Homo sapiens: one gene and its partner. The protein of the gene in region 1 interacts with the protein of each later gene in a biochemical or structural test. Each region holds a gene or a part of one and is shown on either strand. Other genes may lie near its edges.

What was found. The genes of interacting proteins can lie anywhere in the genome.
Region 2: the proteins of GRAP2 (region 1) and ASAP1 form a complex in vitro, tested with the Homo sapiens proteins (one study listed by IntAct).

What each region holds. Positions count from the first base shown.
Region 1 is NC_000022.11:39,903,175-39,908,073, forward strand, and holds part of GRAP2 (GRB2-related adapter protein 2), read left to right. Parts: intron 1-4,899. UniProt on the Homo sapiens protein: Interacts with SLP-76 to regulate NF-AT activation. Binds to tyrosine-phosphorylated shc.
Region 2 is NC_000008.11:130,114,358-130,119,256, forward strand, and holds part of ASAP1 (arf-GAP with SH3 domain, ANK repeat and PH domain-containing protein 1), read right to left. Parts: intron 4,319-4,899; coding exon 4,132-4,318; intron 3,890-4,131; coding exon 3,804-3,889; intron 2,639-3,803; coding exon 2,523-2,638; intron 2,389-2,522; coding exon 2,321-2,388; intron 1,658-2,320; coding exon of another isoform or gene 1,475-1,657; exon of another isoform or gene 1,457-1,474; intron 1,379-1,456; coding exon 1,271-1,378; intron 1-1,270. UniProt on the Homo sapiens protein: Possesses phosphatidylinositol 4,5-bisphosphate-dependent GTPase-activating protein activity for ARF1 (ADP ribosylation factor 1) and ARF5 and a lesser activity towards ARF6.

The sequences.
Region 1 (4,899 bases):
TAAGTAACAGTTGCTGCTGGATAATCCTGGGGGCAGATGATTCATTTTTGTGCCCCTATCAAACAAACTCAAAACTTGTTAAAGAATCTTTATAAGTTGTTTGAATCAAACAATAGGGTCGCTAGGTCCCCATTTTGTCCATTTGAGGTATTTGCCCAGCATACCTTGGTCTGTAAAGAAATAGCACAGCCTTGGCTGGGCGCGGTGGCTCATGCTTATAATCCTAGCACTTTGGGAGGCCGAGGTGGGCAGATCTCCAAAAATAAATAATAATAATGATAATAACACAGCCTCATGAGTCTTTTTTTTTTTTTTTTTTTTGAGACAGGGTCTCACTCTGTCACTCAGGCTGGAGTACAGTGGCACAATCACAGCTCACTGCAGCCTCAACTACCCTGGGTTTAGTGATCCTCCCACCTCAGCCTCTCAAGTAGCTGAGACTACAGGTACACACCACCACACCTGGCTAATATTGTATTTTTAGTAGAGACAGGGTTTTGCCATGTTTCCCAGGCTGGTCTTGAACTCCTGAACTCAAGCGATTCGCCTGCCTCAGCCTCCCAAAGTGTTGGGATTACAGGTGTGAACCACTACACCTGGCCTGCCCTTTCTTTTCTCTTAAAAATTCTTAAGAAAGCATGGTCCTGTTTAACAAATAAGCATTTTACAAACATTTATCGATCAATTACTATATGCCAGGCCTGGCACTAGGCACCAAGTCCTCTTCAACAGTGTTAACATTAAGTTTCAATAAACTTGAGTCAGTAGGAATTCAGTAAATAATTTTTAAAGATTGTTTTCTTTTTAAATATGTATTTATAAACAAAAATTTTAGAGAATTAAAAGAAACTATCACGAAGTGCATGATGATAAAAGTCTTATATACTCTCCAAAGAAAATGTTAAGACATACCTTAAGGAGATAGTGAAGAACAGCCGGGCACAGTGGCTCACACCTGTAATCCCAGCACTTGGGCGGCCAAAGCAGGCAGATCATCTGAGGTCAGGAGTTGGAGACAAGCCTGGCCAACATGTTGAAACCCTGTCTCTACCAAAATACAAAAATTAGCCGGGCATGATGGCAGGCGCCTGTAATCCCAGCTACTTGGGAGACTGAGGCACGAGAATTGCTTGAACCCGGGAGGCAGATGTTTCAGCGAGCTGAGATCGTGCCACTGCACTCCAGCCTGGTCGACAGAGCAAGATCCTGTCTCAAAAAGAGGAAAAAAGAAAAGAAAAGAAAAGATAGTGAGAAAATAACTGAACATAAAACATAAAGAAAAGTTGAAATATTAGTACTCACTACCTAGGTTCAACAATTGCTAACTCTTTGCCGTATTTGCTCCATCTATACCTATTTCTTTCTGAATTACTTGTAAGTTGCAGATAAAATAATACTTCACTCCTAAATAATTCAGTACTCATCTAAGAATAAAGGCATTCCTCTATCTAACCACAATTCCATCATTAGGCCTAAGAGGATAAACAGTAAGTCCTTAATATCATCTGATAGCTAGTGCAGATTTAACCTTCCCCATTTGTCCCCCAAATGTCTTCTATACCATTTTTTAAAAAAAGAATCTAATTTTTAAAAATAAGAACATATTTTGCAGTTGGGTCTCATGCTTCTTTCTTCAACATTGGATGTTTTTAAAGATTACGCCAGTTCTCTTGTACCAGGTCCCACTTTCTGAATTCGTTGTTGCCTCATGGTTAATTTGTTCCTCTACCCACTTTATTTCTCATAAGCTCCAAGTTAGGACTAAAAGCATGATTTGATTTTGATTGAACGTTTTTTGCAAGGTGCCACTGGGTGCTCCATATTGCATCTTATCAGGAGGTACAGAATGCCAGGTTGTTCCACTGTGCATGATGCCAAGTTTGATCAGGGCTTGAGGTAGTGATCTTGCTCAGAGGATCTCTTGTTGTACAGGCACTTTTTCACCCTTTGCAATTAGCGAGTACTCTCAGGGGGTATCTCAAAGTGTATCTCATAAACACTTTGGCATGGTGGCAATATCCTATTTCCCAACAAACTCTCACCCGGTGACTTTAGGTAATAATCTTTGCCTAAATTGATTATTTCATTGGAGTTCATATATATTTTTAATACGCTTTGAAGATGGACTCGACATGCAAATTCATCATTATCAGCAGCAATAGTGGCTGGAAATATTTATTGAGTGCATAAGTTCAGGTAATAATAATAATAGTAGGTAATGTTTATTGAGTGCTTGCTGTGGAGCCAAGACAGCCTCGGTGTGAGCCCAGTCTTTCACTTACTAAGCGAATGAACTGGGACGAGTTATTCTTTTTGTGCTTCAGTTTCTTAAGCTATAAAATGGGATTACTAATGGTGCCTATCTCGTGGGATTGTTCTGAAGAGTAAACGATTTATACATTTAAGGTTCCTAAAACAGTGCCTGTTATTATTGTTATTTGCCAAGCATTGTTCTAATACTTTGTAGGTACTAACTCGTCTACTTCTTCTAATGGTGCAATGAAGAAAGTGCTAATAATACCCTTTTTTCACAATGAGGAAACTGAGGTACGGAGAGGTCTAGTACGTTGCACAAGGTCACTTAACTAGTACCTGGTGGAGCCAGGATTTGAACCCAGGCTGTCTGGTTCCTGAGCACTCTCTCTGATGATGGGCACATGCAGTGAGGAGTGATACAAGTGGAGCTGAGTGGAAGTAGCCCTCACACACACTCAGACTTGAAGTTATTGAAAATCCGGGAGGTTGCCACCCAAACACATTTAAGGTTTAATTCATCTGAATAAGAACAGCATTCCACTAAGCCCAGATAAGTACTCTTATTACATTTACATAGCTTAAGGCTCTGTACAAGAAACCTTGAACATAAAATACTTGGAACAGAAAAGAGTAGGAGAACTATGAAGTAATGGGGGGAAAAAATCCCTGAAAGGAACAATACAAGCGGGGAGTTATGAGACCTGGGACCTCAGAGCCTCGGGGTGGAAGATGATATTTTGATATAATCAGGAGGGAGAAATTTCCTCTCATTTTTCACATTTCTGTACTATATAAGATTTTACCATAAAACGCAAGAGTATAAGCCATTGTCAGATTTATAAAAGGCCATGGTGGATTTCCTTAAGAGACGATGGATGACTGTTGTTAGTAGGTAAATTCCCTGGTTGGTTATCTCATACACTCAGATATTCCATAAGTCAGCCTGTGGCTTCTGAAACTGTATTGAGAAAAAGCTGTATAAACTAGGTGTTGGTCCATGCTCCTTCATTAGCATTACAAAAGGGTTCGACTGCTGAGTTGAATCTTATCCACTCCTTCAGTGGCCATTACAGAAAGCTCTCAAGTGTAATTTTCTAAAGAGAACTAAAAATAAATAAGAAAAAAAAAATCCAGCATTAATAATGGTTCTTTTTGCATTTCCAACACAGTCATTGCCAAATTGGTTCTGCCTTTTTATGTTTTTTAATGAAAAGCAGCCTAATTGATCAATTGGTCATGAATAATACTTCTTCGTTTGTTTTTCTCCACACCCCCCAGCCTTCTAGAACCACGGGCTTAATGTGTCGGCCTACAAATGGTTCATGATTTGTGTTTTTTGTCTAGTGCTTTATGGGAAAATATTAGAAACAAACTGCTGAGAACTCAGTAGGAACTCAGTAAATAATAAGTAGATAGTTCTCTTGTTAAATATGATTTTAAAGAAACTCTTTCTAAATAACTAGGAAATATTACAAGGGAAGTACAAAGTGGGGTGGAAAGCCTGGCTGACTTGTAATTTGAAATTTCTCTTCATCATTTTATAGGTCACACAGTTTAACCCTTTATAAAACAAAATGTAAAGTCTGATAGCTGAAAAGGCTCTCCTCCGCTAAATAGATTTGTTTGAAAATATAGATCATTAAATCGGTAAGAATAACAGGAGAATCTCAACCAAACATTGAGACAACTAAGAAAATTGTCTAAATCTAATACCTTATATCAGTACTTTAAGTTGACCATAAATACGCTGATATCCATAGCACATAGGTTCTTACTGGCAGTGGTGGGGTGGGTGGGGGAAGGGGAGTGTCACAGACACATTCAAGATGTCAACGAAAACTATGAAAACTCTCCCCAATGGGGAAAAAAAACCAACGATGCCTAGCACTTATCCTACGCAACTTTGTACAGAATTTCCGTGGGAAATTCTGGTGTCCATCCATCATAAATCACCTGGTGTCCACCCATATATCCTGAATAGGAAAAATTGTCTTTCTCTAGAGTTATTGTACACTGATCCTGATGGAGCTTTAAAAAGAGTTGTCGTACAGGCTCATTGACTTTGGGAGGACAAGGTGGGAGGATTGCTTGAGCGCAGGAGATTGAGACCAGCCTGGGCAACATGGTGAGGCCCCATCTCTACAAGATATTCTTTTAAAAAATTAGCCAGGCCCAGTGGCCCGCACCTGTAGTCCAAGTTACTCCAGAGGCTGAGGCAGGAGGATCCCTTGAGCCCAAGAGATCAAGGCTGCAGTAAGCCGTGTTCACACCGCTACACTCCAGCCTGGGCAACAGAGTGAGATCCTGTCTCAAAAAATAAATAAGTAAATAAAAAGAGTTGCCATTATCTTGTTTGATCTGGCTATGATCTTTGAGGTAGACAGACCACAGATTTTACCTCTCATTCTGCAGAGTGGGAAAAGCAAGGCTTGGAGAGTTTCCGGGACTTGCTCAAGGTAATTTGCTAATGTCTGCCGGGACGTAGCACCAAGCCTGTCACGCTGTAGGCTGGGCCCCTTCCACAACACTGGTCCAAACACAGGATTCTGGAGATGCAGGAGCCCTCGATGGGCTTCTGGAAAGCTGAATTCTGGCTCTACCAGAGCTACCCACGTGATCTTAAACAAGTCACCTAACTTCCCT
Region 2 (4,899 bases), on another chromosome or scaffold:
TAATTACTTGTGTATCTAAACATAGAAGAGGTAAAATAAAAACATGTTATATAAGATTAAAAAATGGTACATCTATGTAGGACACTTTCCATAAATGGAGCTGGAAGGACTGGAAGCTGCTCTGGGTGTGAGTGAAGGCCTAGGACATTACTGTACATTTTTATACAACTCAGTGCAGTAGGTTGGTTTATACCAGCATCCCACAACCATTTGAGGAATGTGTTGCACTACCGTATTATGACATCTATGGCATCACTAGGTGATGGCTATTTTTCAGCTCCGTTTTAATCTTATATTGATCCCCATTGAGTATGCAGTGTGTTGTGGACTGAAATGTTATTATACAGTGCATGATTATGTTCAATAAATAACAACTGTTATTTACTTACTAATTACTTGTTTTGAAGGTTAATTTTTTTTTTTTTTTTTTTTAAGATATAGGGTCTTGCTCTGTCATTCAGGTCAAGAGTGCAGTAGTACAATCATAGCTCACTGCAGCCTCAAACTCCTGGGCTCAAGCAATCCTCCTGCCTCAGCTTGTCAAATAGCACCACCACGTTTTATTGATTGATCCATTTACTTTGTAGAGACAGGGTCTCACCATTTTGCTTAGGTTGCTCTCGAATTCCTGGTCTCAAGCGATAGTTCTGCCTTGGCCTCCCAAAGCGCTGGGATTATAGGCATGAGCCACCATGCCTAGCTTCATGGTTAATTTTATGTGTCAACAGGCTACAGTGTCCTGGTGTTTGGTCAAATACTAGTCTAGATGTTGCTGTAAAGGAATTTTTTAGATGCAATTACCATTTAAATGAGTAGATTTCGAGTCAAGGGAACTACCCTTCATGATGTGGGTGTGCCTCACCTAATCAGCCAAAGAAAGGCCTTAAAAAGACTGAGGTCCCCCAAAGGGTAAGGAATGCTGCCTCCAGACTGTCTTTAGCCTGAAGACTGCAACATTAACTCCTGCTGGGATTTCCAGCCTGCTGGCCTGCCCTGTGCATTTTGAACTTGACAGCTCCTTCAATCATGTGAGCCAATTCCTTAAAAAAAATTTCTCTGTCTCTCTCCCTATCCTGTTGGCTCTGTTTCTCTGGACAACCTTAATATAGCTGTTAAATGGTGCCCAATAAGGACTGAACAACATAAATGGCCCTGATACATTGGATCATAAAACCACAATCAATCAATCTCACCAAAAATGGATCTTGTCTACACAGACTAGAAAAGTTGGGGTAGTTGTTGAGAATTCGAGGACATAATTTACACTCACTTTGTCATCCAGATCATCATCGCTCTCATCTATCTCCTCCTGTCGAAGATTCCACTCATATTCTACGTGGACGTGTGGATTGAACTTTCCAGATTTAGCCTGGGAAAGCTGGAAGGAACAGCAAATGTGCACCATTTTAATTTAAATGCTGAAACATCCCAATATTATACAAACACTGAGCAAATCCCACCTTATTCCTAGTTTTCAATGAATCATCTGTAGGTGTACTATAGGCAACACTCTGCTTAGACAAGCTGCACTGCTATGTGACAGGCTCAAGAAGAAATGCAAACAATTGCAGGCAGAGCCTTCTTTATTTTGATGACTTGTCTCCAAAATTAAAAGCTTTCTTCTTATTAAATGGGCCTCAAACTTGCAAATTCCTGGCTGAAAGGCAAAACGAGTCTTTGAAGTTTAAGACGTAGGCTTTTAAGGTCCCAGTCCAATCTGTGGCCCCATTTTCTCATTCATAAAATGGGAGCAGGGATAATTGTCTCAAAGGATTCTTTTAAGAATAAAAAGGCCCAACTGGTGGGCCTGGAACCTGGCACTTAGCAGAAACTCAAGAGAATCACACTAATGTGAAGGCCCTGACTTGCTAAGCAAGAACTAGTAGGGTCAAAAAAGGTGAATGTGCACAGGAAGGGGAGGGGCTGGGAGAACAGTGTGTTAACATTTTGAAGACCACTACTCTCTGAGCTTTACTTGCCCAATTTTTGGAGCAGCTTCTCAAATAATTCTTTACTATTAAGCTGCAGAGAAAGTCTAATGGTCTGGGAAATAAAAAGCATGACCTCAATGCACAAGTCGATCTGGTAATAATACTTGTGTAATGCCTTTCACCTCCTTTAACTGCATTCCAAAAACATGTGGATGACAAATTTATCATTTTACCACTTTTTCTAATGTAGCACATTGCTCATCTGATTTTCTTTAGCAAGTGTTAAAAAAAAATGAATCTGCATTTTTAATATTCAATTCTAGCTTCTCAGAATGACACTTTTAAGGCAGCCAATGTCTAATAAATCTCCCACGTCCATTTTTGCTTACCAGATCTTCACACTGGGTAGCTTTTAGTCTCTTTGCTATGTCTAGGGCAGTTTCTCCAGCCTGGTTAACTGAAATAGGAAAAAAATTAATTTGCATAATTATCTAGGAAACACCTTAAGAAGGCAAGGAACAATAATCAAATTACAATGTACCATGCAACACACGCTTACTACAGTCATGAAGACACTAGACACACTCTTACCTATATCCACAGTGGGCTTGCTCCTGAGCAAAAGCTTCAAACACTCAGGTTTACTGTACATACTACAGTAGTGTAGAACTGTGTTTCCCAGGGCCGTCTGCTTATCCAGGTTCCCACTGAAAAATTAGATGATGATTAGAAAAAAATGACTTACTTTATAACTTAAAACTATAGATTAGCCACTTATTTTTGTGCTGACAACTGAGTCAAATTTGAGACCTAATTATTATAATAGAGAAAATTATGATGTTTCTAACCTAGATTTATAAGCAATACAGTGATAACAGGCAGTATTTATTTAGAGTGCCAGGTCCTATGGGACAGACACTGTTTCTTAACATTTACATGTATTAGTTCATTGAATCTTTACAACTATATGATGGGGTAAATACTAATAATAACCGCTTTTACAGATAAAAAACCCTGAAGCGCAGAGAGGCTGAAGTGCTTGCTTTCAAGATTTTCAAGATAGGGATGGTGAAGCAGGGATATTTGAACACAGGTAATCTATCTCTGGAGCCAATGTTTTGAGCCACTATGCTATATTGTCTCTGAGGAAGAAACCTGGACTTTTATACAATTTGGCTTGTGTCTATGTACCATTTTTCCTCTATGGGTTCAAATCCCCTCACTATTTTGATCTTCTTCTTTAGATGAGCTCTAGTTCCTCCTCATCATCTGTTGCTTACAGAACAGATAAAGAGAATAAAGAATCCAGCAAGTCCAAACTTCCTATATTCACTCTTATACTTCCATCAGTATATCCCAAACTTGAATGAGCTATTGATCCAGCCACACACACTGCTGCTGTCTTATATTAAATTTAGGAACAATGAAAACTCACAAATATGGTTGACCTGTGCTGTTAAGTCTTCTCTCTTTTAACCTCTCCTAACGGTTAGCAAATGTGTCCAATCTGTGCAGCAGATTTTTGGATACAGACATAATTTTACATTTATAAAGGCCAAGAGATGGCAAACTACAGCCTGTAGGCCATATCTGGTTCACTGTCTGTTTTTATAAACAAAATAATAAAGTTTCATTGGAATACAGCCACACTTGCTTGTTTACACATTGTCAGTGGCTGCTTTCACACTACCATGGCAGAAGTGAATAGCTCTGACAGAGAGACTTCATGCCTGCAAAGCCAAAAATAATTTTTATATCTAGCATGACACAGAAAAAGCTTGCCAATTCCCGATCTAGGCCACTGATAGGACTGGTTTGTGTTAATTTATAAGGCATATTCAGGTAATTCAACAGAGAAAACAAAAACGATACCAGTTTTGTACAAGGAAGTCAACCAAATGGAGAGATGTCTGATCTGCAGTTCGGACGGCAAGGTGAAGGGCTGTCTCCCCAAGCTCCTAAAAAGGGAAAGAAAAGTATAAGTAAGTCAATAATATGCTCTGCCAAGGGAGGCTTCATATATATCAGTTGCCCCCAAGTAATTATAAGGAGCACACCTCTTCACTCTCATATTCTCTTGATTTAGACATGGCCACCCAATGTATAAGAATCTCATTATATGGTATAATGTTAAAATAAGTCACCTTTTAAACTGATTTTCCACATTACTTTTTATCCAATGATTTTAGTGAGGCCTTACCTGCCCAGGTTCCAGCAGTGGTTCCATTAGCTCTACCCCTTCTGCATAGACTTGAATTAGTGCAAGTAAATCCCTGGATTTGATGGCCTCAAGCAATTCATTTAGTTTAGCTGATGAAGTTGAACAGGTCTTCCTTGAAAACCTATGATCTACATACTTTGCAGTGATATATTCTTTTCGTACAGTCCTAAAACAGAACAAAATAAAGAATTTTTATTTTCCAAGTGCTAGGAAAGGTTTACATTTTTCTGACAAACATTTCTCTTTGAGAAGTTATTTTAATTAAGATACGCTTCTTTTCACCATTCAAATAAACCAGGTTTTAGACCAAATTACTCCAACAGAGACAGAATAAAGAAAATAATATATGTTTACTAATATATACAAGTAATAGATATAGTTACAAAGTAAACGGGCACATAAATCACAGATTTCTTTTTCACCTTGACCAACAGCATGAGAAATCAACTATTTATAAATACTTCAAACTCTGATATATAAGCATATGAATAAATTTAAAAATTTAAGAAGTTAAACACATTCTGAAAGACCAATTAAAAGTTTTCAGAGCTTCACGGAAAGGATTTTGGTCGTCTGATATAACTCTCTATTTTTTATTTATTTTGTAAAATTTTTAAAAGGATCGGGTCTCGCTATGTTGCCCAGGCTGGTCTTGAACTCCTGAGCTCAAGCAATTCTCCTGCCTTGGCCTCCCAAAGAGTTGGGATTACAGGTGTGAGCCGGCCTGTACCCGGCCATAACTCTCTA